4 separate regions of the Homo sapiens genome follow, and all the other regions are linked to region 3. The links come from fine-mapping of genetic effects on gene expression. A gene starts in region 3. Each other region holds a variant in brackets. All regions are shown on one strand. Distances are between the middles of the regions. Region 1 overlaps CYTH1 (cytohesin 1). Region 2 overlaps RBFOX3 (RNA binding fox-1 homolog 3). Region 3 holds the start of USP36 (ubiquitin specific peptidase 36). Region 4 overlaps USP36 (ubiquitin specific peptidase 36).

Evidence for each region. PIP is the estimated chance that this variant, and not a neighbour inherited with it, causes the effect.
Region 1: its variant is the best candidate, but not a certain one, in a credible set for the expression of USP36 in esophagus mucosa (GTEx, PIP 0.79).
Region 2: its variant is the best candidate, but not a certain one, in a credible set for the expression of USP36 in uterus (GTEx, PIP 0.60).
Region 4: its variant is the best candidate, but not a certain one, in a credible set for the expression of USP36 in whole blood (TOPMed, PIP 0.57).

Annotation. Positions count from the first base shown.
Region 1 is chr17:78,756,768-78,764,334 of GRCh38, reverse strand. The region is part of intron 1 of CYTH1 (cytohesin 1); the gene reads left to right. Among named protein-coding and RNA genes, the nearest start is that of CYTH1, 22 kb to the left of the region's middle. The variant G/T (reference allele first, on the strand shown) is at 3,121.
Region 2 is chr17:79,555,103-79,562,669 of GRCh38, reverse strand. The region is part of intron 1 of RBFOX3 (RNA binding fox-1 homolog 3); the gene reads left to right. Among named protein-coding and RNA genes, the nearest start is that of RBFOX3, 52 kb to the left of the region's middle. The variant C/T (reference allele first, on the strand shown) is at 3,365.
Region 3 is chr17:78,837,549-78,845,115 of GRCh38, reverse strand. It overlaps USP36 (ubiquitin specific peptidase 36), which reads left to right and starts at 4,302. Exons shown (of 21, transcript NM_001385174.1): 1 at 4,302-4,380; 2 at 6,366-6,529. LOC124904067 (a long non-coding RNA gene) reads right to left here and starts at 4,002. Exons shown (of 2, transcript XR_007065923.1): 1 at 1-4,002. RefSeq lists silencers at 3,815-3,914, 4,375-4,894 and enhancers at 4,035-4,224, 5,819-6,333, 6,334-6,848.
Region 4 is chr17:78,813,652-78,821,218 of GRCh38, reverse strand. It overlaps USP36 (ubiquitin specific peptidase 36), which reads left to right. Exons shown (of 21, transcript NM_001385174.1): 8 at 158-228; 9 at 1,207-1,289; 10 at 2,441-2,552; 11 at 6,667-6,807; 12 at 7,346-7,446. Among named protein-coding and RNA genes, the nearest start is that of USP36, 23 kb to the left of the region's middle. The variant G/A (reference allele first, on the strand shown) is at 3,919.

The DNA.
Region 1 (7,567 bases), 81 kb after region 3:
GTCCCAGCTACTCAGGAGGCTGAGGCAGGAGAATTGCTTGAACCCAGGAGGCGGAGGTTTCATTGAGCCGAGATAGTGCCACTGCACTCCAGCCTGGACAACAGAGCAAGACTGTGTCTTAAAAAAAAAAAAAAAAGACATTTAGATGGAAATATTATTTTATGGTATTAGTTGTGAGCTTATAAAAAGAAGAAAATGATTATTCTATGTTTTGTTTTTTCTTTGAGACAGACTCTCGCTCTGTCACCCAGGCTGGAGTGCAGTGATGGGATCTTGGCTCACTGCAACCTCTGCCTCCCGGGTTCAAGCGATTCTCCTGCCTGAGCCTCCCGAGTAGCTGGGACTGCAGGCGCACACCACTGTGCCTGGCTAATTTTTTTATTTTTGGTAGAGACAGGGTTTGGCCATGTTGGCCAGACTGGTCTCAAACTCCTGACCTCAAGTGATGTGCCTATCTCAGCCTTCCAAAGTGTTGGGATTACAGGCGTGAGCCACTGCGCCTGGCCTATTCTATGTTTGAAAGATGAGTGTAGCAAATAAATTCTTTAAGAGGAGGCTAGCATACTTTCCCCCTTATCCATGGTTTCACCTTCCATGGTTTCAATTATCTGCAGTTAGCTGTGGTTTGAAAATATGTGAGTATAGTACAAGGAAATATTTTGAGAGACTACATTCACGTAACTCTTATTACAGCATATTTTATAGAACAACTTATTGTTCTTTATTATTTATTATAATGTTCTTTATTATTAGTTTATTATTAATCTCTGCCTACTTTATAAATTTTATCATAGGTATGTATGTATAGGAACAAACATGTTGTATATAGGGTTCACTACTATTTGTGGTCTAGGCATCCGTGGGGGGTCTTGGAAAGTATCCCCTGTGGATAAGGAGGGACTACTCTATAACCTACAGTAAGGTGATTTGTGGTGTGAATCCACTTTATTCTAGGAAGTATTAAGGTGTTTGACAAATGTGTATATAAATGTGTGTATCTTGAGAGGGATTAAAAGTCTTTTTTTTTTTTTTGGCACGGCCTCGGCTCACTGCAACCTCTGCCTCCTAGGTTTAAGCGATTCTCCTGCCTCAGCCTCCCAAGTAGCTGGGACTACAGGCATATGCCACCACTCCTGGCTAATTTTGTATTTTTAGTAGAGACAGGGTTTTACCACGTTGGCCAGGCTGGTCTCGAACCCCTGACCTCAGGTGATCCACATACCTCTTCCTCCCAAAGTGCTGGGATTACAGGCGTGAGCCACCGTGCCTGGCCAAAAGTCTTTTTTTGAGATTAAAAACATCCAGAAAGCAGCCGGACGGACATTTCCATTGTATTAGTTTCCTGTTGCTGCCATAACAAATTATCACAAATTTAGTGGCTTAAGACAATATACATTATTATCTTACAGTTTGGAGGCCAGAAGTCTGGAATGGGTCTCACTGGGCCAAAATGTATTTCAGCAGGGTTGTGTTTCTTTCTGGAGGCTCTAGGGAAAGATCTACTTCCTTACCTTTCCAGCTTCTAAAGGCTGCCCACACTCCTTGGCTCTTAGCTCCTTCCTGCATCTTCAAAGCCAGCAGTGGCTGATTGAGTCTCACCTCTCATCACTCTGACACTGATTGTCCTGCCTCCCTCTTCCATTTGGAAGAATCCGTGTGCCCACTTGGATACTCTAGGATAATCTCCCTCTTCTAAAGTTGGCTGATTAGGAGATGTAATTCCATCTGCAATCTTAATCCCCTTTTGCCATGGAATTTAACATGTTCACAGGTTCCAGTGATTAGGACATGTATATCTTTGGGACCATTATCCTGCCGACTACATCTATACATCTACCTTAGTGCCTTTGCCCATGGAATGTTTCTTGTGAGAATGGGCAGTTTAATCCTTCCTGCATATCATTTTCTTCTTATGGAAGTGTGCCTCATGGGTATTAAGTATTGCAGTACTTTGTAGACTTTGTCTGACTTCGTGAAGCATTTCTAGTTTTAGAAGAGTGCTCCTAATTCAAAGGTAGGGGAAGGCATGTGCAAAAAAGCCGCCCTTTCCACTCTATATTCTGCTGATCAGCAACACTATTTGTCATCAAATTACCGGAACAGAGACTATCTTGAGTCAGAAGGTTATGTTGTTGCTCTCTGTTCTTAGGAATGTTTTTGTACTCTGAGAGTAAAGATAATTTTTCCTGTTGTCAGGTAATGGAAATGTCCCTGAACAATGGACCTTGATAGGAAAAAGAAGTTTATTATTCTAGAAGATGTTGGCACAACATTATTTGGTAATTATTTTTCCAGAAATCTGCTGTTTTCCCCCATGTCACATGATGGACACCTCATTGTATGGAGGAAGCAGGCCAGATGCTGTTACTCTTTCAAACGTTTATGTTAAAGGCTCATTTGGTTTAATTTCCACTCAGAATAGATGTTAAGGATACAAAACCAAATGTCTAGCTGACTACTACTGTTCTTTCCCTTTCCTGCTCTTGCTTTGGACTACTGTTTTCTCAAACGTATAAATGTGTGTGTATAGCATTCTAATAAGAGGAATTTAAGCTTTAAAAAGTTTTTAAAAATAACACTCTTTTTTTTTTGTTTTTGAGACGGAGTCTCGCTCTGTCCCCCAGGCTGGAGTGCAGTGGCGTGATCTCGTCTCACTGCAAGCTCCGCCTCCCGGGTTCACGTCATTCTCCTGCCTCAGCCTCCCAAGTAGCTGGGACTACAGGTGCCCGCCACCACGCCCGGCTGATTTTTTGTGTTTTTAGTAGAGACGGGGTTTCACCGTGTTAGCCAGGCTGGTCTGGATCTCCTGATCTCGTGATCCGCCCGCCTCGGCCTCCCAAAGTGTTGGGATTACAGGCGTGAGCCACCGCGCCTGGCCCCTGCCTCTTGATTTTTAAAGAGGTTTTAATAAGCTTTGAGTAGTGTGAGTGCTTTTAGTTCCCTGTATTATCACGTTCCCAAGGTCAATTGATTTTAACACAAAAATAGGTTACACATCACCCCATTCCAGCCTAGAGCAGGACTAGAAAAAGCAGTTCCTGTGAGAATTAGTTCCCCTTGGAGATCTGAAACTTGAAATCTGAAAACAAGAACCTCTTGAGTTGGGACTCAGAAGGTGGG[G/T]AACTGCTGTTGTGTACCAGAATGTGTGCACAAGGGTGTTTATTGTAGCATTGCTATGTGACTGAAAACTTGGAAATCGCGAGGCTGGGCGCGGTGGCTCACACCTGTAATCCAGCACTTTGGGAGGCCGAGGTGGGTGGATCACAAGGTCGGGAGTTCGAGACCAGCCTGACCAACATGTTGAAACTCTGTCTCTACAAAAAATACAAAAATTAGCCGGGTGTGGTGGTGCATGCCTGTAGTCCCAGCTACTCAGGAGGCTGAGGCAGGAGAATCACTTGAACCCGGGAGGTGGGTATCCCATTTATCAAGAAAATATATAGAGACTGTCTCTGACTTATGGTTGACTTTACGATGGGTTTATTGGGAAGTAACCCCATTGTAAGTTGAGGAGCATCTGGGATATATTTTGATTTTGAGAAGTGATGTCATCAGACTTACTTGATACCTGTAACTTTTAGAAAGATAAGTATATGATGCTTTTTGTGTAAAATTACTTTTTCACTTCTATTTAAAAGTCTTAAGTTCTGTTGTAATGCGATTTTTGATTTTCTAGTGTTTAGAAAAGAGGGTTTTAAGATAGTAGAATGTTGTTGCTTTCTTTTAAACTATATATATACATATATATACATATATATGTATGTGTATATATATATACATATATATATACATATATATGTATGTATATATATATATACATATATATACATATATATGTATATATATATACATACATATATATACATATATATATGTATGTATATATATATACATATATATATGTATGTGTATATATATATATATACACATATATATATGTATGTGTGTGTATATATATATATATATATATATATATATAAACCTGCTATTTGGATAGAGGCCAGAATTAAAACATCAGTAGTCAAAAGAGGGAATTCAGTGTTTCTTGAGTTTTTAGCTTTATATGTCTAAATTTGTAAAATTCAACCATGTATTTTCCGTTCCACATGGGCACCTTTTGCAATTGTGGTAGCAGATGTCCTAGGCAGATGAACATGCAGAAGTGGTTTGTTTAGCCTTCCCTTTTAAAGTTCGTAATCTAGTAAATTTGGGTTAGAATGGTGGTTCCCATACTTGACTAACCCGCAGAATCCCTGGAGGAATCTTTCAAAAAAGCCATTTATTCTGGTTCCTTACTCTAGCCATACCAAACGTACCAGGGCAGATCCAGGAATGAGTGAATGAATAAATACGTACATACATGCACATGCTTGTACACACATGCACACAAATATACTTCTAATGCCCCTAAATTTGGGGACCCCAGGTGTGGAAACTCACGCTTCAGAACCTCTAACTGTTCTCTCCAAGGTCACATCACACAGGCAGGCTCTGGCTTGAGTTGGCCTGGCCAGAGATGCTTCCCTTCATTTCCCGTGTTGAGTGTATAAAATGATTTCACAAGAATTTGTGCGTCCATGATTGTAGGAAGGGATGGCTGAGTGTTGAATGCATTTCCTCAGCTGTAACTATCTAATTTATGTGGTTTTGCTTTAAGCCATTCAGTATTCCGCTTGGAGGGTTTTGAACTTACAGAGGTTTTTAAGAAGAGGCTCAACAGATGAAAGAAGCAAGAATAACCAACCTTGGATTTTTGTTTTTACTCCTTTATTATAGCTACCAAGTATATAGCTACCTACCCACTTTAGCTTCCCCATGTGTCTTTGTGTGGTTTTCTGTTTTGTTCCTTTTAAGAGATACCGTCTCTTTATGTTGCAGCTGTTGCTAGGCAGCCAGTGGCCAGGTGCCAGTTTTAGAGCCCTGATCTGTACAACAGTGAGGAAGCAACCTAAAAAGACCCCTTTGCCTACCCCGTTGGATGAAAGAGAGGCTTGGCGCTGGGATGTAGACTGCTAGGCGCATGAGACCTACGAAGAACTGAGGCTGCGTCCACTTACCCAGAGTGTCTTTGGAGAGTACCTTTTAGTCCTTCCTCGGGGCAGTTGCCATATAGTCTGAAAATGAAGCCACCTCAGGCAGTGGGCTTCGATTGGCTACAATTGTGCCCTTCTTACTTTAGCACTTTGGCAAACATTGAGAAAATTATTATTATGGAAATTTTCTTTCTGTTTTGAGACAGGATCTCACTCTGTTGACCAGGCTGGAGTGCAGTGGTGTTGTCATAGCCCACTGCAACCTCGATCTCCTATGCTTAAGCAATCCTCCCACCTCAGCTTCCTGAGTAGCTAGGGCCACAAGCACATGCCATAACTCCGTGGATGCCGAAAGTAGATAACGAGACCTACTGGATCAGAATGAGGCAGATTAGTACACATCGCACAGCAAATAGCAGGAATATCAGCATGAAAGTGCTGGTGCCCCTGACCTCAAGTCTCGTGGGGTGACATGATGGGCCCAGATGATGTCTATGCATGAATTGGGTTTGCCTACAGCTGAGGAACCAAGGACCACCAAGGACTTAGCACTTTCCTTTCTTTTTTTCTTTCTTTTTTGTTTTTTTGAGATGGAGTTTCGAGTTTCACTCTTGTTGCCCAGGCTGGAATACAATGGTGCAATCTCGGCCCACTGCAACCTCCTCCGCCTCCTGGGTTCAAGCAATTCTCTTGCCTCAGCCTAGCGAGTAGCTGGGATTACAGGCATGCACCACCATGCCCGGCTAATTTTTTATTTTTAGTAGAGACGGGGTTTCTCCATGTTTGTCAGGCTGGTCTCGAACTCCTGACCTCGGGTGATCTGCCTGCCTCGGCCTCCCAAAGTGCTGGGATTACAGGCGTGAGCCACCACACCGGGCCTGGGCTTAGCACTTTTTATAGCAAGTGATAGACAGGCCAGGCTTCTTCTCCTCAATGGGGGCATGTCATGCTACAGTCTCCTTGACCAACTTCATGTCGCCAGCTACAAGAAGACAGACCTTGCAGTTTGGCACTCTCAGCAAGGACATGCAGGGATGCTTGGGGCCTCGGCCAAAGGCAGCATGATATAGATGGAGCATAGTTTAATTAATCATCCTGTCTTGTTATTTAGAAGTTTCCACTTTGTTCCTGTAAGAAAGAATCCTGTAACATTCTTGTGGATAAAGTTTTGCTCACATTTCCAGTGATTTTCTTAGGCTAGATTCCTGTAAGTGGACTTACTGGGTTAGGGAGTTTAACTTTGTAGTCTCTTGATATGTACTGCCAAATGGGTTTTCAGAAAGTGTGAATCAGTTTACACCTCATACCAGTATATGATGATACTTGTTAATTTATCCTTCCTGACATTGAATTACTATTTTTTTAAACTTTTTTTTGAATTTTTTTTTTTGAGGCAGAGTCTTGCTCTGTCACCCATGCTGGAGTGCAGTGGTGCGATCTTGGCTCACTGCAACCTCCACCTCCCTGGTTCAAGCAATTCCCCTGCCTCAGCCTCCCAAGTAGCCATGCCTGGCTAATTTTTTTTGTATTTTTAGTAGAGAAGGGGTTTCACCATGTTGGCCGGACTGGTCTTAAACTCCTGACCTCAGGCAGTCTGCCCGCCTCAGCCTCCCAAAGTGCTGAGATTCAGGCATGAGCTACTGCACCCGGCTGAATATTTTTTTAATCTTTTGGGTTGCTGATATAATTAAAATTTTTTCCTGCCTCTCTCAGCATTGGCAGAATGAACTTTGTTCTAAGAACCTCGGCTAGTGTTTACATGTATTAGAATGGGAAAATTATAGCAGCTTCTTTCCCAGGTCGTTTTTTATTCATCTATTCAACAGATACTTATTGAACACCTATAATGAGCTGGACACTCTATGGGCCTTGCAATTTAGACATGAATAGAGTTCTCAGGTACCTTACATTCTAATTAGAAGGAGAACTTTGACCTCTAACCAAGACCTGTTTAATTCATAGGAGGGTTTCTTTTCTTTTTTTTAAACTGCACTCACGGTCATCCCCCCAAAGGATGAGGGTTTCTTAAGTTATGTTGAAAATTCAAACCTTGAGTCCGGGCATGGTGGCTCACGCCTGTAATCCCAGCACTTTGGGAGGCCAAGGCAGGTGGATCACGAGGTCAGGAGATCAAAACCATCCTGGCTAACACAGTGAAACCTTGTCTCTACTAAAAGTATGAAAAAATTAGCTGGGTATGGTGGCGGGCGTCTGTAGTCCCATCTACTCAGGAGGCTGAGGCAGGAGAATGGCGTGAACCCAGGAAGCCTGGGCGACAGAGCGAGACTCCATCTCAAAAAAAAAAAAAAAAAAGAAAAAAAAGAAAAAAATTCAAACCTTGAAATTCCGCCTTGTGAATAATCTTAGTCTAATTTTTGCCATGTTTATTGGAATATAGGCCAGTGGTTGAACTTTGTGTTCCTAACCTCTCAGCATCCTTGTGTCTCCTGGTGATTATGAAGGCTTTTTTTTTTTTAAATGAGATCTTGCTCTGTCACCGAGGCTGGAGTGCAGTGGCATGATCATAGCTCACT
Region 2 (7,567 bases), 720 kb before region 3:
ACCGAAGCGGCAGCAGCAACAGCCCGGGTGGTACTTCGTGCTGGATGTGTATTTTCAGAAGCTGCGGGGGACGTCATGTGTATAAAATTAGCATTGCCTTGTTGGCCCCTTTCAGACTAATTCGGAGTGAAATGTTTTAGCAATGGTGGGCTGATTCTATCAGGAGAACAAGAACTAATTAAATTCCCTCTGACCATCAAGCAGTAAATTATTTATATCCAGACAGATGCAATCTAATCTCTAGCATCCAGCGAAACCCAACATGCATGCTACTTGATTTTTCAAGGGGAGAGGAAGAAAAAAAGACAAGGCTCAAGTACTCAAGAGAGGAGATGGACGGCGGAGAGAGCCACAGGACTCTGGCCCTAGAGGCACTCAGCTCCGTGTGTGGATGGGGAAGCCGCCGACTCGGGTGAGGGCTCAGGACTTCCATTCCCGGTTCCCAGTAGTCTCAGCCGGCATGCTATTCCTTGCAGGCAGGAATAAAGAAAAAAGGAGTCCACGAACCATTCTACAAGGCTTTGTTTAACACAATCTCAGCTGTTTAGGGGGAGAATTAATTTCACTAATGAATTTGCTAATGCATGTCACAGACGTACTGGTCTGCCCCTTTTGGTGGCCTTTGGTGGCTGCTGAGTGGCTGCCAGCTTGCATTTTGGAATGGAGTGATTAGCTTGTCCCCATGAGGTGAGCTGTGTGGGCCGCTGCCCATCTCTTCTGCTGCCCACCCAGCAGTGGGACTCATAGCACCATGCATGGGAAGCCCAATGTCCCTCCCCCTGATGCCAGGGATGACATCTTTGCTGGGCGTTCCTGCCCGTCCCCACCAGACACAGGTGTGGACGGGAGCCTGAGCCTGCTTTGGGTCTAAGTCCCTACCCTCATGTGCCCCTCTCTTGGGAAGAGGTGAGGGCTGCCCTCAGGACGCTGGTTGCTGCTCTGTGACTCGGGCCGGGATGAAGGGAGGGCTCCTTTTGCAGAGTTTGCTGTGAGGACACCTGCTTCAGTGCCCAGCTGGGTGGTGCTTGCCTCGAGGGGTCTGCATACACTGGGCACTCACTGCTGTCACCAACACGCACCGCTTTTCAGTTTCAGCGGTGACATCGGCTGATGGAAAGGCGCTGACCCAGTGGCCTCGTGGAGCTGGGGTGTGGGGTCAGCCTCGTTCGTGTGTCTCTGGGGACTCCTGAGTTTGGCGACCCTTGCTCTCTGTCATCTGAATCTGCAGTGGTGGTCTCTGCTCACCCTTAATCCTTGGGGGTGACTGGAGCAGAGGGAGGTCTAGGATTTGGAGAGCCTGGGGAAGGGCTGACTGTCCAGCGTTTCTTCCTGGAAGCTGGGCTTGCCGGCTGCTCAGCCCTGGCAAGGCTGGGCTCTATTTCTGGCACCCCTGACACTCCCTTTGAACCCTTGGAGCACGGTGGTGAACTTAAGCCCCCAGGGGCATACATGGTAGTGACTTTTTTAAAATGGCAAAAGGACCCTTTGCAAAGCAGTCACCTTACTAAGTTCTAAGCATCTGTTCCAAATCTCTAAAGATTTTGAGACTCCTCTTTTGGACTCACTGTAGTGCAAGGTCTATTTGTTTGAATTGTGAACACATCCTCCTTTGAGGGTGCAGCTGATTGTGGGAGAGGCCAGGCGCCCCCAGCTCTGTCTGGTGGGGAGCCTGGCCCATAGAGTTGGCTGGGGTCCAAATGCTGGCTTCACTTCTTATTACACACGTGGTCTTGGACAAGTTATTGAATCCCCATGAGCTTCCGTTTCCCCAACTGTGAAATGGGACCAAGCATCCTTCCTACCCCCTGGGGCAGCTGAGAAAAGGAGAGGACGCAGGTGAAGTCCTCCGCATGCCACCCAGTGACAGGCTGAAGCTCGGGAAGCACCTGCAGCTGCAGCTCTCGCGCTGGCCGTGCTGTCATGGGTGGGGAAGTGGGTGGGGGCATCTGTGGATGGAGACTGAACGGCTTCCCGCCACGAGTGTTCTGGCTGTGGTGAGGTGAGGTTGCTGTGACAGCACTGGCTGGCAGGCTTAGATGTGGGGAGTTGGTGCTGGAACATAAGTCACTGAACCCCATGATCCCTGGAGTGCGTATTCTTCAATGTTCCTGGACACGCCATGGTCGGGTGGGCAGTAGCTGCTCATTAGGTGCCCACCGTCCTGGTAAACATAAAAATGAAATTGCTGTTTCTTGAGTACCTGTTCTGACTGGTCCTGAGGCTACAGTCAAGGAGAAGTAAAGTGGTTGCCCTCTCACACCTTCCGCCAGCAGGACAGGGAGGGCACTTCATTTGCAGTGGGATGGCGAATGAAGCATGAATACCTGCATGGGTTCTCTGCTCTGCAGTTCGCAAAGTATCCCTGTGTATGTGAGAGCTGGGCATTCTTAGGCTTTTCGGGTCTCCCTCAGCCTTTCCCTGTGCTTTGCTCTGGCTCGGTGACCACCCAGCAACCATTTCAGCCCAGTCACTTCTACACTCAGTCTTTTGGGGCTGGGATGGAGATTGACGGTGGGTGGGGGAGGCTGTTACTTTGGACCTGATTTTCTAGGAGTTGCTGAAGATGCAACGGGGTGTCACAAGATCCATCCACCCACCACCCACCCACCCACCTATTCATCCACCCACCCATTCATTCATCCATACACCCACCCACCCATCCTTCCACCCATCCACTGTTCACCATCCACCCATCCATCTATCCACCCATTCATTCACCACCGACCATCCACCTACCCACCCACCCATCTATTCATCCACTCACCCACCCACCCATCCACCTACCCACCATCCACTATTCACCATCTACCCATCCATCCATCCACCCATTCATTCACCACCTAACATCCACCCACCCATCTGTTCATCCATCCACCCACCTACCCATCCATCCACTATTCACCATCCACCCATCCATCCATCTACCCATTCATTCACCCATCCATCCACCACCCATCATCCACCCATCCATCCACCCACCGACCCACTCATCCATCCACCCACCCACCCATCCATCCACCCATCCACTATTCACCATCCACCCATCCATCCATCTACCTATTCACTCATCACTCTCCATCCACCCCCCCACCCACTCACCCATCTGTCCACCCACCATTCATCTATCCACCCATCCACCTATTCACCATCCACTATCCACCCATACAAAATCCACCACCTACCCATCCATCATGCAGTATCCATCAGTCACCATCCACCTACCCATCTACTATCCACCCATCCACCACCCACCACTTACCATTCACCCATTCACTTATCCACCCATCCATCCAATCATCCATCCCATCCACCCATTCACTATCCACCATCCACCTCAACTGCCACTCACCTATCTACCATCCAC[C/T]ACCCACTCACCACCCACCATGACCCACCATTTGCCATCTACCCATCCATCCATTCTATAAATAATTAGTAAGCACTTAATGCATGCTAGGTATTATTTTAGGCACCAGTAAGACAATCATGGGAAAAAAAGACAGACAACCCCCGCCCCTCCCATCCTCAGGGAGCTCTATTCCAGTGAGAACAATTAATGTGCTAGATTGTGAGGTCATCAGTGCTGCTGCCCGTGTAAGACTGAGGTTCCCAGGCCCGAGACCAGCCTGGCCAGGGCTCCCAGGGTCTCCTGGTGGGGACTCTCAGGAGTCCAGCTGCTGCCCCTCAGCTGAGCACCTGGCATGGACAATGCCTGGTAAATGCTTGCTATGTGAGGGCACCTGCCCACGTTGAATCCACACAGCCTCTGGGCCACAGGGGTCCTGCTCCTTAGCAAGCCTCTCTGTGCCCTCCATGCTGGCCCTGCATCCCCTGGCACACCCCCCACCATTGTCAATGTCCTTCTTGTGCAGCTGGCCTCGGTCCCTCCTCTCTCCCTCCTGCTCCCCGCAGGCCCACGCAGCCTCCGCGCACTGTGGGTGGTGAGAATATGTGGTTAACAGGTTGACTAACCCAATCCCCGCAAGGCAGGGGAAGGCTGCTCCAGTAAATTTCCAAATGTGTCCGGGCTGACAATTTTGGTTTCCTCTCAAGCAGTGAGTGCATGGAGCCCGGCCGGGAGGGAAGTGTTCAGGGGCCCGAAGCCACCTTGGAGGGCTGGTCCTGACTGTGGTCTTGCCTCCCTCCTGGGCAGCCGGGAAGTGTGGGCCCTGGTGTTTCTGCTTTGGAAGATCCTCCCCATCCGCCAGCACCCTGGGGCCCTCAGCCCCGCCCCTCAGCTGCCCCCAGCCGGTCTCTGCGCCTGGACCCTCCGGACGGTTCCCTGCTGTCTGCCAGTCACCAGACACTGGGTTGGCTCTCATGCACACAGGGCGGGAGATCCTGGCTCTCACTCTCTCTGTGTTAGCAAATATTTTTCTGAACTCCAATTTTCCTTCCTGCTCCTGCGCCAGGCCCCTCAGAGCAAAGGCGGCCACCCAGGTAGATCCCTGGGCCTGGGCCACGTGGCCCTCTCAGCTCCTCTGAGGGTATGTCTTTCCTGCCCCCAAACAGTGAACAAAACACAAATCACCCTCCCCGTGTGACATCACAAGCTGGTCTGCGATGGACCTCGTGATGATCTGAGTCTGTCCCCTCTCCCTGCTTCCTGGGTTTCCTCGGCTCAGAAAATAGCAGTTTCAGGCTGCTTTTTTCTCCTCTTAGATTTGAGTGTTTGTAATTTTTCTTCAAGCTGAATCTCAATTTACTTGGGAGCTACTTATCTTCCCTCCAGGTCTCCTCTGTCTCCCGGCCGTCCCCTTGCCCCAGCAAACAACCGCAGCGCCACCCCCTGCGTCCTCGGCAGGTTTTGCTCGTGACCTGTCTGTTGTCTTCCAGATCATTAGCTTGGATATTAAACAAAACTGGGGCCTTGCAGTGGCCCAGGAGGCCTCCCACGAGATGCCCCCGCCTGCCCGATACGCTGACATCTGCCGTTAGCCTTTGTTTATGGCTGTCCAGCCTCCCTCAGCCTGTGCCTGTGTTGATACCAGAGCCAATCTAGTCCAATTTCACACAGAACATTTCTTCAGACTCGTTTCTTCGGCCTCACCAACAGCCGCTAATTTGGTGGCACCTATGAAAATGGGCTGGGGATCCGCAGCTGTCACTTGGTCCTTGCCACTCTTCCCCCCTTTCCCCCCACCACCGCCGGGCTCCCACGGCCCCAGACGTGGTCTCTTTGGAAATGTTCCATCATCTCAGAGACTGCAGCTGTGGGATGGGGGCTTGGCTGTGAGTAGACTGGACTTGGGTTTTCTCGGGGTTTGGAGGGTGGCCCTTGTTGGCTTCTCCATGGCTGGGTGGGTGGGCAGGGGTAACAGACCAGATAGAGACTAACAGTCCAGGGCCTGGGGCCACACTGCCTGGATTGGAATTCCAGGCTACCTGCTCATTCTCTGGGCAATTTCTTTCCTTTCCTTTCCTTTTTTTTTTTTTTTTTTTTTTTTGAGACAGTGTCTCACTCTGTCACCCAGGCTGGAGTGCAGTGGTGCGACCTCGGCTCATTGCAACCTCTGCCTCCTGCTTCAGCCTCCCGAGTAGCTGGGATTACAGGTGTCCACCACCATGCCTGGCTAATTTTTATATTTTTTGGTAAAGATGGAGTTTCACCATGTTGCCCAGGCTGGTCTTGAACTCCTGACCTCAAATGATCCACCATCCTCGGCCTCCCAAAGTGCTGGAATTATAGGCATGAGCCACCATGACTAGCCTTGTCAGTTTCTCAGTAGAGTTCTTTGGGGACCATGGAGACAGACGTGGAAAGCCCTGAGCACCAGCTGGACACAGGGTGAACCCCTGGGCAGCAGCAACCCCTGCTAGTGAGGAGTCCTTGATTCTGTCCCCTTCCCCACGCTCCCCTTCGGTGGACTCTGTGCCTCCAGAAAGTCCCTCCCTTCCTAGGAATTTTGCCATCTCAAGACGTTGATAGATGTGCTGCCTTCTCAGATATTTGCTTATTTTGCCTTTTGCCAGTAAATATTTTGCCCGTCTTTTCTTCCTAGTTCATATATTTTCATTACTGACAAAGTTATTAAATTAGTTCGAGTCTTTTAAGTAGCCGTTAATTTCACATCAGCCCTAATTTGTGTACTTGATTTCCTCTCCCCACCCACTCTGGATGTGGTTACAGCTCCTCCTCCTGTCGCTCATTTGTGTTAAAATCAACACTTCCTCCCCAACAGCTCCCTGTAAGCCTTCCTGTGGGCGGCCTGGGCAGAGCTACCTCCATCAACCCTGTTTCCAGCATGGTCTGTCCCCTCCTCGGCCCTTCAAATGCTTTACGGAGCCACACGGGCACTCCTCCTCCTGCCACCGAATGGAACTGCTGTCTATTTTGCCTTATGTCCTGACGTCCCCTTCCTGTATTCATTTCTTTGGGTTCCCAGGACCTAAGCCAGTGCCCTGCCCAGAGTAAGTGCTCACTGGTGTTTGAGGGGTCAGCAGGGAGGGAGGAGTGGAGACCAGCTTGGTTTGGAAAACTTGGTCTTCTCTAGGCCTGGCTGGTAGCAGGTGTGAGACCTTGGGTAAACTGCTCTCCTGATCCTGGTCTTTGCTTCCCCGTCTGTAAAGTGGAGGAATTGCGTCTGGATGATTGCAAGTATGCTTTCCCGCTCTGACATTCTAGAATCTTCCATTTCTTTTGCTCTGTGGGCATTGATTCATCTTTCCAATGGGGCCTGTCTTCACTGTATGGTATTGGGTTTTGGTGACATTGTTGTAGTTGGAGTTCTGGGATAATGTAATTGTTGTCATTGTTGCCAACACCATTGCTGCTGCCACTGCCTTCTACCACCACCATCACCACTATCATCATCATCACCACCGTTACCATCACCACCATCATTACTATCATCATCGTCACCATCACCACCGTCATCACCATCACTGCCATTATCACCATTACCATCGCCATCACCACCACCACTACTATCATAATCACCATCACTGCCATCATCACCATTGCCACCACTATCACCACCATCACCACCATCATGACTATCATCACCATCACCACCACCACCACCACCATCACTGACATAATCACCATTACCACCACCACCGCCATCACCACCATTATCATTGTCATCATCATCATCACTACCACCACAACTACCATCATCACCACCATCACCACCACCACAACTACCATCACCACCACCATCACCACCACCACCACCACTGTCATCACCACCATTATCATTGTCATCATCATCATCACTACCACCACAACTACCATCATCACCACCATCACCACCACCACAACTACCATCATCACCACCATCACCACCACCACAACTACCATCATCACCACCATCACCACCACCACAACTACCATCATCACCACCATCACCACCACCACAACTACCATCATCACCACCATCACCACCACTACCACCACCACCATGGCCATCACTATCACCACTTCCCGAGTGCTTACCATGGGCCAGGCATTGTGCTGGGTATGTGATAGCTATCACCCATGTGATTTTTACAGTCATCCATTGGGGATATGGATACTCTTCTCCCTATTTCACAGGTGAAACATCTGAGGCACAGAGAAACTATTTGC
Region 3 (7,567 bases):
CATTCCAGAACCTCCTTCCCTTGCTCCTCTTACAGCCGGTCTCTCATCTTCCCACTTTCAACGGAGGTAGCACATCCTCGCAAGAGTTTCCTCCGATGCCCCAGGCCAAGGTATTCTCCATCACCTCATCCTGCTCTTGGCCTGGTCACCGTTGGTCATAAAAATTATGCAAAAGTGTTCATTTGTTCATGACCTGCGTGTTCTTAAGTCCTTTGTGGGGAGAGTCCAGGGTTGATTCACTCACCACCATGTGGAACAGAGTAAATAAGAAATATTCGCTGGATGAATCAATTTGTTTGGTGCCACAGGGCCACAGGAAGGGGTGCCAGCCCCAAGAGAACAGTGGAGGCTTTGTGCGGCAGAGGCCTGGATCCTTCTTCCCCAGGAGTTGGAGACTGGAGGCCTTTAGCAAGTGCTTCCTAGGGAAACTTCAGGTCCCTCTGGGCAGAAAGGAGCCCAGAAGGGTGGATATTTGGGGGAGATGGCTGGCACCAGAGATGGCTGGCACCAAGGGGGCTGGGACTGCAGGAGGCTGTGTGGGGCGGGGACTTGGAGGGAAGTGACAGAGCAAGGGAAAGGGCTGGCGAGTGTGAGCGTGAGAGTCGGTGGATTTTGAAAGTGTGTGAGTGTGGTGGGGTGTGTGAGTGTGTGTGAGGATGTGAGTAAGAGAGAATGTATGTGTGTGTGTGTTGGGGGAATCCCTGGGACCGAACTTATTGTAGAAAGGGTGGCATCCTGCCCAGCTGCATTTAGGGGAAGGACCTCTGCCAGCCTAGGGCACATCTGGCTGAGGTGACCCTTGAGCTTGAGAGCAGTACCAGGGGAGCGATGCAGGGAATCCGCAGACTAGAAGACCAGGGTGCACCTCCCCAAACAGCCGGCTGCCTGGAGTGGCTCTTCGGAGCCTGGGTAAACCCCTGGAGATCTGTCCTATTCAAAGGAGGCAGAGAGCCCCCAAAATGATTGAGGTGGGGAATTCCAACCACCGATGGGGTAGAGGTATTAAACTAATTTAGTTTACCAAAATGAAACAAGAGAAAAGGCCGGGAGGTGGGGTGCGGTGGCTCACGCCTGTAATCCTTGCACTCTGGGAGGCTGAGGGGGGCAGATCACCTGAGGCCAAGAGTTCAAGACCAAACATGGCGAAACCCCATCTCTACTAAAAATACAAAAATCAGCTGGGTGTGGTGGCGTGCACCTGTGATCCCAGCTACTCTGGAGGCCGAGACACGATAATCGCTTGAACCCGGGAGGCGGAGCTTGCAGTGAGCTGAGATTGCACCACTGCACTCCAGCCTGGGCGACAGAGTGAGACTCCACCTCAGAAAAATAAAAAACAAGAGAAAACTACAAAATACGTATCCTGACTTGTGCCAAAGCATCTCGGAGCAGCTGCTGCTCTTGCTAGTGCCCTCTGTGGTCCCAACTCCTGGCCGCCACCTGCCCGGGCCTGGGCTGCCGCCTTGCACAGCCATTCTCCTGGCACGGTCAGATGTCTGAGAGTCAACACCATTTAGGAAGGATGACTTTCTCCACCCCTTCTGAGACTAGAAACAAAATGGAAGGGTCATAAGAATGGTGCCAAGCAGCCAAAAGAGCCACTTCCTTTGGGTACCAACAGGTGGCGTGGCGTCATGGCTCCTGTCTTCCCCAAGTGCCTGTGCCCAGCAGCTGCCTCTGCCTGTGCATCTTCTAGGGCGATGCTAATGGCAGATTTCCTGAGAGCCCTGTCCCATCTGCATGGATGGGAAGGACGACATACATTGCTGTTCTTCCTAAGGAAAGTGGCATCCCTCCCAAACCTGGGAACTCGGGTCTCCATGGACCGCACAGACACCTGAGAAAAGGTTTTGCATCAGAGGCTGATGGCAGAGGCTCTACCAGTCCAGCAAGTCACCTGACTGATGTGAAGGGTTCCCCTAGAGCAGGAGGGACATCTGGGCTGAAAACCCTCATGTGAAAAGGCCTGGGCCCCCCAGGCACTCGGCACCTATGAAATGCAACCCCAGCGGGTGGAAAAGCAAGTCCACGATTGCACTCCCCTGCCAGGCTAGGGAGAAATTCTGCTATTGCAGTTCAGGGGCAACACACCCACCCCCGCAGACCTGAGGGTGGCTGCAACTGTCAGCCACACCCAAAGAATGCAGGGCAGGCTCACTGTGGATAAATGTTTATGAAAGAACCACATGGAAATTGAAATATTTGAGATGAGACTGAATGATCTCTAAATCCTAAAAGAGAAAACTAGAGAAACATTAAAGATGAAAGAATAAAATATTCTGTTATAGAAAGCTGTAACCAAAACGGATCACATTAGAACTTACCTCAAGAAAAAGGTGCATTAACAGAATAGTTGTATTGTCACCCAAAAATTACCTGGTCCGCTCCCTGCCTGGGAGGTCAAGGTAAGATGGACTCAATTCCTCTCCTGGTTTCACAGCCTGTAGAAGATGGCTGAAGATTTGGGCTAATTTCGTGAGAGACCTACGTTGCATTTCTTTCTTTTTTTTTTTTTTAGACCAAGTATTGCTCTGTTGTCCAGGCTGCTGGAGTGCAATGGCACGATCTCAGCTCATTGCAACCTCCACCTCCCAGGTACAAGCGATTCTCCTGTCTCAGCCTCCCTAGTAGCTCGGATTACAGGCGTGCGCCACCATACCCAGCTAATTTTTGTATTTTTAGTAGAGACAGGTTTTCACCATGTTGGCCAGGCTGGTCTGGAATTCCTGACCTCAAGCGATCTGCCTGCCTCGGCCTCCCAAAGTGCTAGGATTACAGGCGTGAGCCACTGTGCCCTGCCTTTTTTTCTTTTCTTTTCTTTTCTTTTGAGACGGAGTCTCGCTCTGTCGCCCAGGCTGGAGTGCAGTGGCGACATCTCAGCTCGCTGCAACCTCCGCCTCCTAGGTTCAAGGGATTCTCGTGCCTCAGCCTCCTGAGTAGCTGGGATTACAGGCGCCCACCACCACACCCAGCTAATTTTTGTATGTTTAGTAGAGACGGGGTTTCACCATGTTGGCCATGCTGGTCTCGAACTCCTGACCTCAGGTGATCCGCCCACCTTGGCCTCCAAGTGTTGGGATTACAAGGGTGAGCCACCGCGCCCAGCCCAAGGATTCTTACAGATAGGGCATAGTCTCAGCATCAGACTAATATGGTTATCTTGTTTGCTTTTTTCAAAAAACACCAGCGCCCAGGTAATAAATACAAGGTGAATTTTGTTCCAAGTACATCTAGCCTCTCTCCCCATCTCCAGTCCCTGCTTTAGGATCCGTGGGGAGGGCATGGAAATTCGTTTTGGGTTGTTTACCTGTGACTTCACCCTACTCATCATTCCTACTTACATCAAAAAAGACACAGCAGATACGACTGTGTTTGCAAAGTTCTGCCTTTTGGATAAAGTAGTTTATGCCCATCCTGTGCTTCTCTGAGTTTCTGAGGTCAGGCCAGGAACCAACACTCTCAACCTGCCCAAGGGAATGGGGAGGAAGCCAGCGAAGTTGCCTCAGATCAAGAGGATTTTTAAAAATACTGCAAAAGAAATACGTGCTCACAAATACTCAGCTAAAACCTTCGCAGAGCTGTCAGAGGACAAAGCTTTTGGAGGGAGTGGGTGGAGCTAGAGATTGCACAGCCGCCACCAGCCTACAAAGGTCAAATCTCACACTCTCAGATCCCTAATTCCGAAGAGCCATTTCCTCGGCAGCCCCAGGCTTTGGCCGATCGCTCCCAGATCCCTCCCTCCCCAAACTGCAGGTGCTCCGCGTGTGGGAGTCACGGATGGCCCCAGAGCCCGGGACGTTAAGGCCGAGCGCCCGCGCCTCCGCTTCTCCACAGCCACCTGACGGCCAGGGGCAGGTGGGGGAGCCCAGCCTTCTCCCTGCCCGGGAGACAGCGCGGGAGGGCTGTTGCAGGGGTGGGCAAAGTCCCTCGAGTCCCCGTTCTGGGGCGGGGGCGCGCGCCACTGTCACACTTCAGGCGTCCGCCACGCCGCCAGGTGTGCTCGGCCGACCCGGAAGTAGCGGCACCTCTAGTGCGCTGCGGAGACGTCACCCTGCCGCGGCACAGGGGCGGGAGCGCCTGTGGCTCTGCGCACTTGCGTCATCACGTAGGCTGGCGGGGTCCCGTGATGGGGAGGTGACGTAGGCGACACGGAAGCGGCGGTGGGCGGGGACAGGGAGTTAGCGGAATCTAGCCCCGCCTCTTAAAGCCTCCCAACCCTTTCGGAGTTAGCGCAGCGCGAACGCTGGGTGCGGCGCCTTTAAGCGTCGCGGTGACACGTGTGTGAGGCGCCGGAGGCCCGGATGGTGCGCGTGCTGGGCCGCGGGCCGAAGGAGTCGCCAGGGCTGCGTAGGCTTGTGGCGCGCCCGCGGAGAGGCCGGGGTAGGCTGGGGTCGGGTCGGGGCGGTGCGCAGGCCTGGGGACGAGACCGGGGCGGGGGGTTCCGCGAGGCCTGGGGCGCGGGAAGGGCTGGCGGGCGCAGCCGGGACGCTCAGGGAGAACGTGGGCGCGGGTCCGCGCAGGGCTTCGGCCGTCCCCGAGGAGGACCCGGGATGCTCCGCCCGCTCGCGAGCTCGCTTCTCCAGAGCCCGGGTATTCCCGAGGAGGGTCCGGGGCCGGGCTGTCCTCGCCGGTCTCCGCCGTCCCCCGGGCTCCGGGCCGGTGATGGGGGTCGCCGGGGCCCGCTGTCTGTGCAGGATTCAGGTCAACTTCGGAGAGGTTGAAGTCGGAATCAGGGCGAGGGCGTCGCGTGCGGCCGCAGAGCTCAGCGGGGCGGGTGCGGCCCCGGGGCGGGCACCTTCCTCGTGGTTGCGGAGGAGGCCATGGAGCCCGGGGCGGGGTGCGGTTCCGATGCTGCTGCTTCTGGCGGGTGGCGTGGGGGTCCTGGGCCTGGGGCTGGAGTGGCGGCCGCCAAACCCAGACACACGAGAGGGGAGACTCCGCGCGCCCCCGTTTACGTAACGCTCGCCACGGAGCCATGCTCGGGGAGAGGTGCTCGGGTCGCTGTGTCCGCGGCCGGGCTCGGGGCAGGCGCTGCGGAGTCGCCCGGGAGGCCCCTGGAGCGCGGCGCTGGGCCCCGGGAGGCCGCTGCTTCCGTGGGCTCCTCTCCCCAGCACGTGGTTGACCCTGCGAGCGTCCGTTGCAGTTCATCCTGGAAAAGTGACTTTAGAAGGAGGAGGGAGCGGGAATGAGCCTAAATGGTGCTGGCTGGGGTTCGCGCAGGTGGAAATGTGGATGAGGCCTGTGCTGTCCTTGGACAAGAGAGAGCATCCTTCCTGAGTTGGGTAGAGTGTGGATGGTGTGTGCGTCGGAGGGATTGCTAGTGATTACAGGAACACTTGTCTCGGGCTCCTACACGTCAGAGAGCGAGCGAGCGTTGTTTAGGTTATTGCTTAATGTTTTAGGTGGAATTGGTGAAGTAGAGATTGACCTGTCCCACTTGAAAAATTGTGTTCAAAATCTCTGCATCTACATTAAGGAGTGGGTTAAGTTCAAAGTTACTTATCTCGAGTGAAACTGGGTTACATCTCCCAAGGTTCGTTTATCCCCTCCCTAAGTGGTTCTCAAGCGTTGGTTGTGCATGACAGAGTTCTCACCTTCCAGGGTAGATGTGAGTCCTAACCGAAAGCAGTGATATTGTGGGGAGTTTTTAATACGACTGGATGTCTTCACTTTGTAGATGGCTTTTATTCTGAGATCATTTCCTTACACATTTTTCGGGAGTTGGTATGCTTTTATTTATGGATGAAGTCATAGGTCTGAGATTTGCTGTAGAATTACCTGGGGATGGGAAGTGACTCAGGATGGGTCAGATGTAGTTACTGAGGCTGAATAAGGGGGGCTCATGTGCTCCCTGTGCGGTTCTCCATCTGTGTGTTTGAATGTTTTCACTGTAAACTGTTTTTACGAACCTTAATTTTATGTAATCATAGTGATCGTAGATGGTAATGAAAGAGAAAATCCACACTTAGCAAAGCAAAATTTTGGCAACTCCTATTACTCCCTGAGGTTTGTTGTTGTTGTTATTGAAGTTTTACTGGTTCATTAAATCCAAAACTTGGGGATTTATTACCTCTTACTCTTTGGAAATAAGATTAGACTGGAGCTGACTGGCAGGTGTTGGGGAGGTTTTCCTTCTCTGGGCTTGTCTGGGGTCAAGGTTAAGGTGTTCATATCGTGTGCATTACAACAACTGGTGATGAGGTAGTACGGTCCACCCGCCTCATCCTGAGTGCACGCGTGGATGCTCCTTGGACGGCTTTTTCGTGGTAGAGGGTTCCCGGTGCGCGCCGCATCCCTGGGAAGTAGCTGAAGAGAAGGCACAGGAAGAGTCGCCTCCACTGATGGTCTCCCTGTCCCTCCCACAGGCTCTGACGCCCGCTCTGCGGCTTCGGTGTTTGAACAGGCCACAGTCCAGGAGCGCTTACATTCAGGAGCTCCGCGTAGCACCTGCCCAACCAAACTCAGCCCTCCGTTAAGATCCTGGTTCCATGCCGCAGTAGGACAGCAGGCCCAAGTCTGCACATCCCAGGTGAGTCTGCGAGGCTTCTGTGTATTTTTTGATTCCGTTGAATTGTCTGCATGTGACGCAGCAGTGATTGTTCAGTTGGTGAGAAGTCTTTGATAATTCTCATGAGAAAAGGCTCTTTTATTTTCTCAAATCAGACAACTTATAATGCTTTTTTTTAAATAAGCTTCTGAAATTTCTTTACAGAAGTTTTTTGTTTTTTGTTTTTTTTTTTTTTTGAGACCAAGTCTTGCTCTGTTGCCCAGGCTGGAGTGCAGTGGCGCGATCTCGGCTCACTCCAACCTCTGCCTCCCGTGTTCAAGCAATTCTCTGCCTCAGCCTCCTGCGTAGCTGGGATTACAGGCGCCTGCCACCATGCCTGGCTAGTTTTTTTGTATTTTTAGTAGAGAAACATCTTCGCCAGGCTGGTCTTGAATTCCTGACCTCCTGATCCACCCGTCTCGGCCTCCCAAGTGCTGGGATTACAGGCGTGAGCCACGATTTTTTTTGTTTTAAAGATGGGGTCTCACGATGTTGCCCAGGCTGGACTGCACTGGCTATTCACAGGCGTAATCATAGCTCACTGCAGCCTCAGGCTCCTGCCCTCAAGTTATCCTCCCACCTCAGCCTCCCAAGCATCTGGGACGACAGGCCCAGGCCACTGCACCTGGCTTTTCTTTACAGAAGTTTTTGTAGAAAAAGATACTTGATCCATGTATAGAATTAGATGATCCACAGTGATAAATTTGAATGGCTTAATATGAGGTGCTGGAGGAAGTCCTTACTTTCACTAGAGCAGAATTTTGGGGCACACTTGACTTGTTGATTCTCTGAGGGCAGGCTGGGTACTGAATACCAGAGGAAGTCATCATTTTTCTGATGTGAGTGAGCAATTTAAGGGACATATTTTTGAAATTGTGACTCAGATAGTCTGTGCTGTGTTTGGGAAGGTTAAGTTGAGAGGTGGTGGGTAGGGGAGGGCAAGTGGTGGATACAAAGGTAGCGATTGGAGAGGTGCAGGGGTCTCTTCTTGGTTACAGTTTCCATGCAGCTGCACCAACA
Region 4 (7,567 bases), 24 kb after region 3:
TCTCTGTTCGGACACCAGGATGCTTCAGGGGCTAGTGGGAATCTCATCTTTGGCCAAAGCCCTGCTGAGAGTCTGCCTCCCTGCTGGGTCTCGGTCTTGGGAGCTGGGAGTGCCTCTGCCAGGCCCCACCTGCTCCACTGCCTCTGTTCTGTTGCAGTGAAGTGCTCCGTGTGCAAGAGCGTCTCGGACACCTACGACCCCTACTTGGACGTCGCGCTGGAGATCCGGGTACAGATCTGTCCTGCCCTTCACTTTTGCAGTAGGAGAGCGAGGCCAGAGGGTGAAACAGAACCCGCAGAACAGTAAAGGCATCAGATCAAAATAGATAGGGAGAAAACTCCTTTGCTCCCTGCCGCCTTGCAGTACAGACCATTGTCTTTACCTGTTTTTTTCTAGAGTTTTTCCTAAGCGTATCCTTTTATTTAAAGAAAAAAATGGTAAAATTGGGTTTTGTGTCCTGAAGCATGAACAGGAACAACGCTGTCCCCAGGGCTTGAGGAGAGTCTGTTGTGTGCTCTGGGCGGCGTGCAGCCTTTGGAGCTTGGTGGCTCTGTGGGCCTCACCTGGGAGAGCAGCCTTGGCTTTGTCGCACATCCTGCTGCAGCTACAGGGTGCGGGAGGGTGGTCTGCCTTTGCTGGGCCAACCCAAGCTCCAGAGCAGGTCCAGCTACAAGATCATCCTGATAAAAGTGACTGATTCATGGCAGACCTGCAGCTGTCATTTCTTTGCTTTGCTTTTTTTTTATAGGGGCTTGAGGGACAGGGTCTTGCTCTGTGGCCCAGGCAGGAGTGCAGTGGCGCAATCATAGCTCACTGTAGTGTTGACCTCTAGGCTTAAGTGATCCTCCCACACAGCTGGTACTACAGGCATGCACCACCACGCCTGGCTAATTTTTTAAATTTCTTTGCAGAGACAGGGGTCTTGCTATGTTGCCCAGGCTTGTCTCAAACTCCTGGCCTCAATGATCCTCCTGCCCCGGCCTCCCAAGGTGCTGGGATTATAGGCGTGAGCCGCTGTTCCTGGCTGCTTTCATTTCTTGTCTCTGGAGAAGGAGTCCCAATCTGGCAGCTAGTGGGCAAATTTTTATGCGAGTCTAAGTTCTGTGATTTGCTGCCTCAGCCTAAAAAAGACCTTAAATTTGGCATTTCTTGAATCAGCCTTTTTCCTCTGCTGTGTATTTTACTCCCTGTTTTTGTCCTCCTCAGCAAGCTGCGAATATTGTGCGTGCTCTGGAACTTTTTGTGAAAGCAGATGTCCTGAGTGGAGAGAATGCCTACATGTGTGCTAAGTAAGTTTCACGTTGCTTGTGGCAGAAGACTGATACCAGACGGGAAATAAGTCCCCTCACCTGACAGTGTTGTGCCCACCCACTCTTCCTTAGCGGTGACCGCTGCTCGCATTTCTTGAGGAACCTATGTGTGTCCTAAAAACTCAAACTTCTAAATAACACGAATGAAGCAATAGCTATGATTTTTATAGCTACAGTTTACACCATACCTGTTCTAAAGATGCCGCATATATTGTGCAGTAGGGGCTGTGGTTTCCCATTGCTAGGGATGGTGAAACTGAGGCACAGAGAAGTGAAGTGACCAGCCATGGGGCCACACCAAGAGGACGTGGCAGAGCACGAGCTCACATCAGTTCACACTGGCTGGCACCGGGCGGCCGCCCCAGGGACTGTGCCCAACCAGCTGCTCTCTTGCCTCTTAAGGAGTGTTTTCTTTGGCTTTCATTTTTTACTTAACTGGTTTTGGACATTTTTCCGTTTCTGCAGATAGAACTCTTACTTTGTCATTTGTTGCATTTTTAGTAGTGACAGGGTTTCACCTTGTTGGCCAGGCTGGTCTCGAACTCCTGAACTCAGGTGATCTTCCTGCCTTGCCTCCCAAAGTGCTGGGATCACACTACTACAGCCGGCTGAATATCTTTATATCTAGGTCCTTGTAAAGCTGTAGGCACTAAAGAATATATTCTTAATTCTGCTTTACTCTTCTTTAGGTCTGTTTCCTGCAGCTCTCCAAGCTGCGCGCCTCTGCTTCTGTTTTCTCTCCCTGTGTTTGCGCATCTTCTAGCTTTGCTTACGTTGACTTCCTGCCTGCCCGTTTTATCACTCAGCCACATCTGCTTTAATTTGCTCTTTCCTGTGTTGGCCCAAAGCAACTTTTTCCTGTATTTTATTTAGTTTCCTGGTGGGTACAGTACTTTTATTTTTTTGCTTTAGAATCTTCCCACTTTCTGTAGTCTTATTTCCCTGTGGTAGCTTTCCTTTACTTGAGGCATGCTTAATGTGATTTTGAGAGGAGCAGAAGGTCGAAATCTCATTGATGAAGATTCCACTATTACAGAGCAGTTGTTGCTGTTATTAACTTAGCGTTAAGACAACATTTTTCAGAGCACGAATCAATCATTCATTAATCTTTCTCATCACCTTCTTCATAGATGCAAGAAGAAGGTTCCAGCCAGCAAGCGCTTCACCATCCACAGAACATCCAACGTCTTAACCCTTTCCCTCAAGCGCTTTGCCAACTTCAGCGGGGGGAAGATCACCAAGGTGAGCGCTCGTGACACCATCCCAGGCAGCTCCGTGGGCCACAGTCGGCATCAGAATAACACGAAGAAAGTGATAGCCACGAGTTTGATAGCTGCTGTTTACACAGTACCTGTCCCTGTTCTAAAGGTTCTACACATATTGTGAAGTAGGGACTGTAGTTTCGCCCTTGTCCAGGACGGGAAGACAGTCACAGAGAGGGGAAGCAACCTGGGACGCCTTTTAAAAATAGACGTTTCTGGGTTTATCCCAGTGCCAGTGAATTTGAATCTCTGGAGGACAGGGCCCAGGAATCTGCATTTTTGCAAAATCCCTGAATGCTTGTTATACACAGTCAAGTTCCAGGGCCACTGTCTTAATGGATTTACCGCAGCTTCTGGTTGTGCTTGGGCTGGTCCTGGCAGGGACTTTCAGGGTTCTCCAGATGAGTGTGATGAGCACTGGGCGGTGGGACTTGCATTGTCCATGTCCTTTTGATGTCTAGAACAGGTGCCGTTGCATGCTCTGGCTTTTTATGAAATATGGAGTTTAGAAAAACTACTTTTGACACGATGGTATTTTATTGTTTAAATTTCATTTTGTTTTAAGACAGGGTCTCACTCTGTCACCTGGGCTGGAGTGCAGTGGCATAATCAGCGCTCACTACAGTCTTGACCTCCCAAGCTCAAGCGATCCCCCTGCCTTAGCCTCCTGAGTAGCTGGGACTGTGGGCACATGCCACCATGCCTGGTTAATTTTTTAAAAAGTTTTTTGTAGAGACAGCATCTTGCTGTGTTGCCCAGGGTGGTCTCAAACTCCTGGGCTCAAGTGACCTGCATGCCTTGACCTCTCACAGTGCTGGGATTACAGGTGTGAGCCACCATACCTGGCCTATAGTGGCATTTTCATAGAAGATGTGTTTCTTTTTTCTTTTTTCTCTTTTTTTTTTTTTTGAGACAGAGTCTTGCTCTGATGCCCAGGCTGGATTGCAGTGGCGCTGTCTCCACCTTCTGGGTTCAAGTGATTCTCCTGCATCAGCCTCCAGAGTAGTTGGGATTAAGGCGCCCACCACCACACCTGGCTAATTTTTGTATTTTTAGTAGAGATGGGGTTTTGCCATGGTGGCCAGGCTGGTCTCGAACTCCTGAGCTCAGGTGATCCGCCTGCCTCAGCCTCCTAAAGTGCTGGGATAACAGGCATGAGCCACCGTGCCCAGTAGATGTCTGTATCTCATAAAAATCTAGAGTTCTGTTCTGAGAGCCTGGTTATGTGGTTTGGAATGACACCCTTGGCTGAGCCTCCGTTTCCTCACTGGTAGTGGTGGGGGCTTGCTTAGGTCAGCATTTCTCAAATGTGTTTGCAGATTCTTAATGTCGTAGACTCAGGTGTC[G/A]TGTAACCACAAGGGCATGTTTTAAGAAATGTGTCACCAGGCAATTCTGTCACTGTGTGAACATCATAGAGTGCATTTACACAGACGTAGATGACGGAGCCAGCTGTATGGTATAGCCCATTGCTCCTAGGCCACAAACCTACACAGCCTGTTCCTGTCCTGAATACTGTAGGCAGTTGCAACACAATGGGAAGTATTTGTGTATCTAAACATAGAGAAGGTACAGTGAAAATGCAGTATTATAATCTTATGGGATCGCTGTTGTATATGTGGTCTGTCATTGACCAAAACATGTTATGTGGCACATGACTGATGGTATGTGACGTTTAAGAACAGGCAAAATTAATGGTGACAGAAATCAGAACAGTGAATATTTGAGATGGGGGCAATGACTGGGATGTGGGAATTTTCTAGTTGATGTTCTGCATGTCCATCAGTATATACTTGTCAAAACTCTTTGATCTATATACTGAAGATCTATGCATTTCAACAAATCCCACAACTCAGTTTAAAAAAATGATTTAGGCTGGGCACAATGGCTCACAACTCTAATGTCAGCACTTAGGGAGGCTGAGGTGGGAGGATTGCTTGAGACTGGGAGTTTAAGACCAGCTTGGGCAACATAGTGAGACCCTGTCTCTACAAAAAAATTTTGGTTTTTTTGTTTTTTTTTTTGAGACGGAGTCTTACTCTGTCACCCAGGCTAGAGTGCAGTGGCACCATCTCAGCTCACTGCAATATCTGCCTCCCAAGTTCAAGCGATTCTCCTGCCTCAGCCTCCCAAGTAGCTGGGACCACAAATGTGTGCCACCATGCTTGGCTAAATTTTGTATTTTTAGTAGAGACGGGGTTCCACCATGTTGGCCAGGCTGGTCTTGAACTCCTGACCTCAAGTGATCCACCCACCTCGGCCTCCCAAAGTGTTGGGATTATAGGTGTGAGCCATCATGCCCGGCCTAAAAAATTTTTATTAATTGGCCAGTCATGGTGGCGCGTGCCTATAGTCCCAGCTACTTGGGAGGTAGAGATAGGAGGATTGCTTGAGTCCAGGAGTTTGAAGTTACAGTGAGCTATGAATGTACCACTGCACTCTAGCCTGGGTGACAGAGCGAGACTGTGTTTCTTAAAAAAAAAAAAAAAAATTATGCGTATGTTTTTCGGAGTTCCTAAACACACGTCTGTATATGACCCAGAATAATGGCAATCCTGTCATGTGGGCTCTGTGCTGTCCTGGTGCACTCAGCCTACAGCTGCCATGCCAGGCACTATTACTGCTAAGAATATATGTGTGTGCATGTATGTATATATGTGTGTGCACGTATTATATGTGTGTGTATGTATATGTGTGTGCATGCATGTGTGTATATGTGTGTGTATGTGTGCGTATGCATGTGTGCGTGCATGTATGTGTTGTGCATGTATGTATATGCGTACATGTGTATGCATGCATATGTGTGTGTGTATGTATATATGTGTGCATGTGTGTATACGATGTATGTATGCATGTATGTATATATGTGTGCATGTATTTTATGCGTGCATGTATGCATATATGTATGCATGTTATGTATATGTGTGCGTGTATTTTTTTCTATGAAAAATTGGTCAGTTTTGGGAAGACATTTTAGCATGACCTTTCTTCTGATCCAGTTGATTAAAAGTCTTACTTGCGGTAGCAGTTGGCTATATTAATTCAGCACTTTTATTTCTGAAGATCTAAAACCCAGCATTCTCTCCCTTTTCTCCCACCAACAATGTTCCTGTAAAGTGGAGGGAAAGAAAATGAGTGACCCTTCTCATTTGATCGTTAGGAACCAGGTGGTGAGAGAACTAATGGAGATGCTTGACAAAGACAAGAACAGATCCTGCATTGCTTGATGGGACAATAAAGTTTCCCATAGGCTGGCTGGAGAAGACTCACTTCTCAGCATCTTGGTGTTTTTTCTTTGTTTGTTTGTTTTGATTGTTTTGAGATGGAGTCTCGCTCTGTTGCGAGGCTGGAGTGCAGTGGTATGATCTCGGCTCACTGTAACCTCCACCTCCTGGTTTCAAGCGATTCTCCTGCCTCAGCCTCCTGAGTAGCTGGAACTACAGGCACGTGCCACCACGCCTGGCTAATTTTTGTATTTTTAGTAGAGACAAGGTTTCGCCATCTTGGCCACGATGGTCTCAATCTCTTGACCTTGTGATCTACCCGCCTCGGCCTCCCAAAGTGCTGGGATTACAGGCGTGAGCCACCGCACCTGGCCAGCATCTTGGTTTTTAATCATTGCCTGGGGGAGCTCCTGCACAGCGTTGCTGCACACCCATTCGCCCCAAATTGTCTTTTTCTTGTTTGTGGCGGGGCAGTTTTGAGACAGTCTCGCTCTGTCGCCCAGGCTGAGTGCAGTGGCTCGATCTCGGCTCACTGCAACCTCTGCCTCGCGGGTTCAAGTGATTCTTGTTCCTCAGCCTCCTGAGTAGCTGGGATTACAGGCAGTGCACCACCATGCCCAGCTAATTTTTTGTATTTTTATTAGAAGTGGGGTTTCGCTATATTGGTCAGGCTGATCTCGAACTCCTCGAGGTGATCCCCCTGCCTCAGCCTCCCAAAGTGCTGGGATTACAGGCGTGAGCCACTGTGCCCGGCCCCCAAATTGTTAAAGACCAGACAAGCTGGGCATTTTGTGTGGTTGTGGATGGAAAGGGCAAATTGATCTTTACTCTCAAAGTGAATTTTATTTGTCTTTTCCTTGATTTTTCAAACAGGATGTAGGCTATCCGGAATTCCTCAACATACGTCCGTATATGTCCCAGAATAATGGTGATCCTGTCATGTATGGACTCTATGCTGTCCTGGTGCACTCGGGCTACAGCTGCCATGCCGGGCACTATTACTGCTACGTGAAGGTGAGAGGCTTGTGTCAGTGCAGCTGCCTCCTGGGACAGGTTTCAGCACCCATGCACATCCAGATGCGGCCTCTGTAGAGCACTTACTTTGTGAAAAGTGTGATGTTTTGTGGTTGTATTCAAGTCCTCGTTGTTGCCTCTCTGCGTGGAGTGAAAAGATGCCCTTTACAGAAGTGTTGCACCAGAATCTAGTGTTCTCAGACTTGCAGGGAGACACGGAAGAGGCAGCCGCTTCTGGTGCCATCCTTAGAACCCTGGCAAAATCGGCCATGGTGATGACACTGCCTGAATGTCCTTTAGAAGGGACAGTTCCTATCTGTTGGGGCACTAGGAAGGAACTGGGACGCAGAGCACACTTTGGGGTCACATTCCGAGTTATGAAAATATTACACGTTTTAATAGAAGTTGTTACCTGTTGATTATTAATAGTGTTTGGAAATGTAGCAACTAACAGATTTTTTATTCCCTTTTTAAAAAGTGAGGATAATGGGATGCTTGTTGATTGTTTTGTTTTCTGCAACATCCTTGGCTGCTTCAGGCAAGCAATGGACAGTGGTACCAGATGAATGATTCCTTGGTCCATTCCAGCAACGTCAAGGTGGTTCTGAACCAGCAGGCCTACGTGCTGTTCTATCTGCGGTAATAAACTCACGCCCTCCCCAGATGAGCTCACTCCCTCTGCTCTTTTCTTATACCGGTGGGCCTCCCTAACCTTTTTTTGTTTGAAGGTAATTGGGAATTCCACTGGAGGGATTTGTCA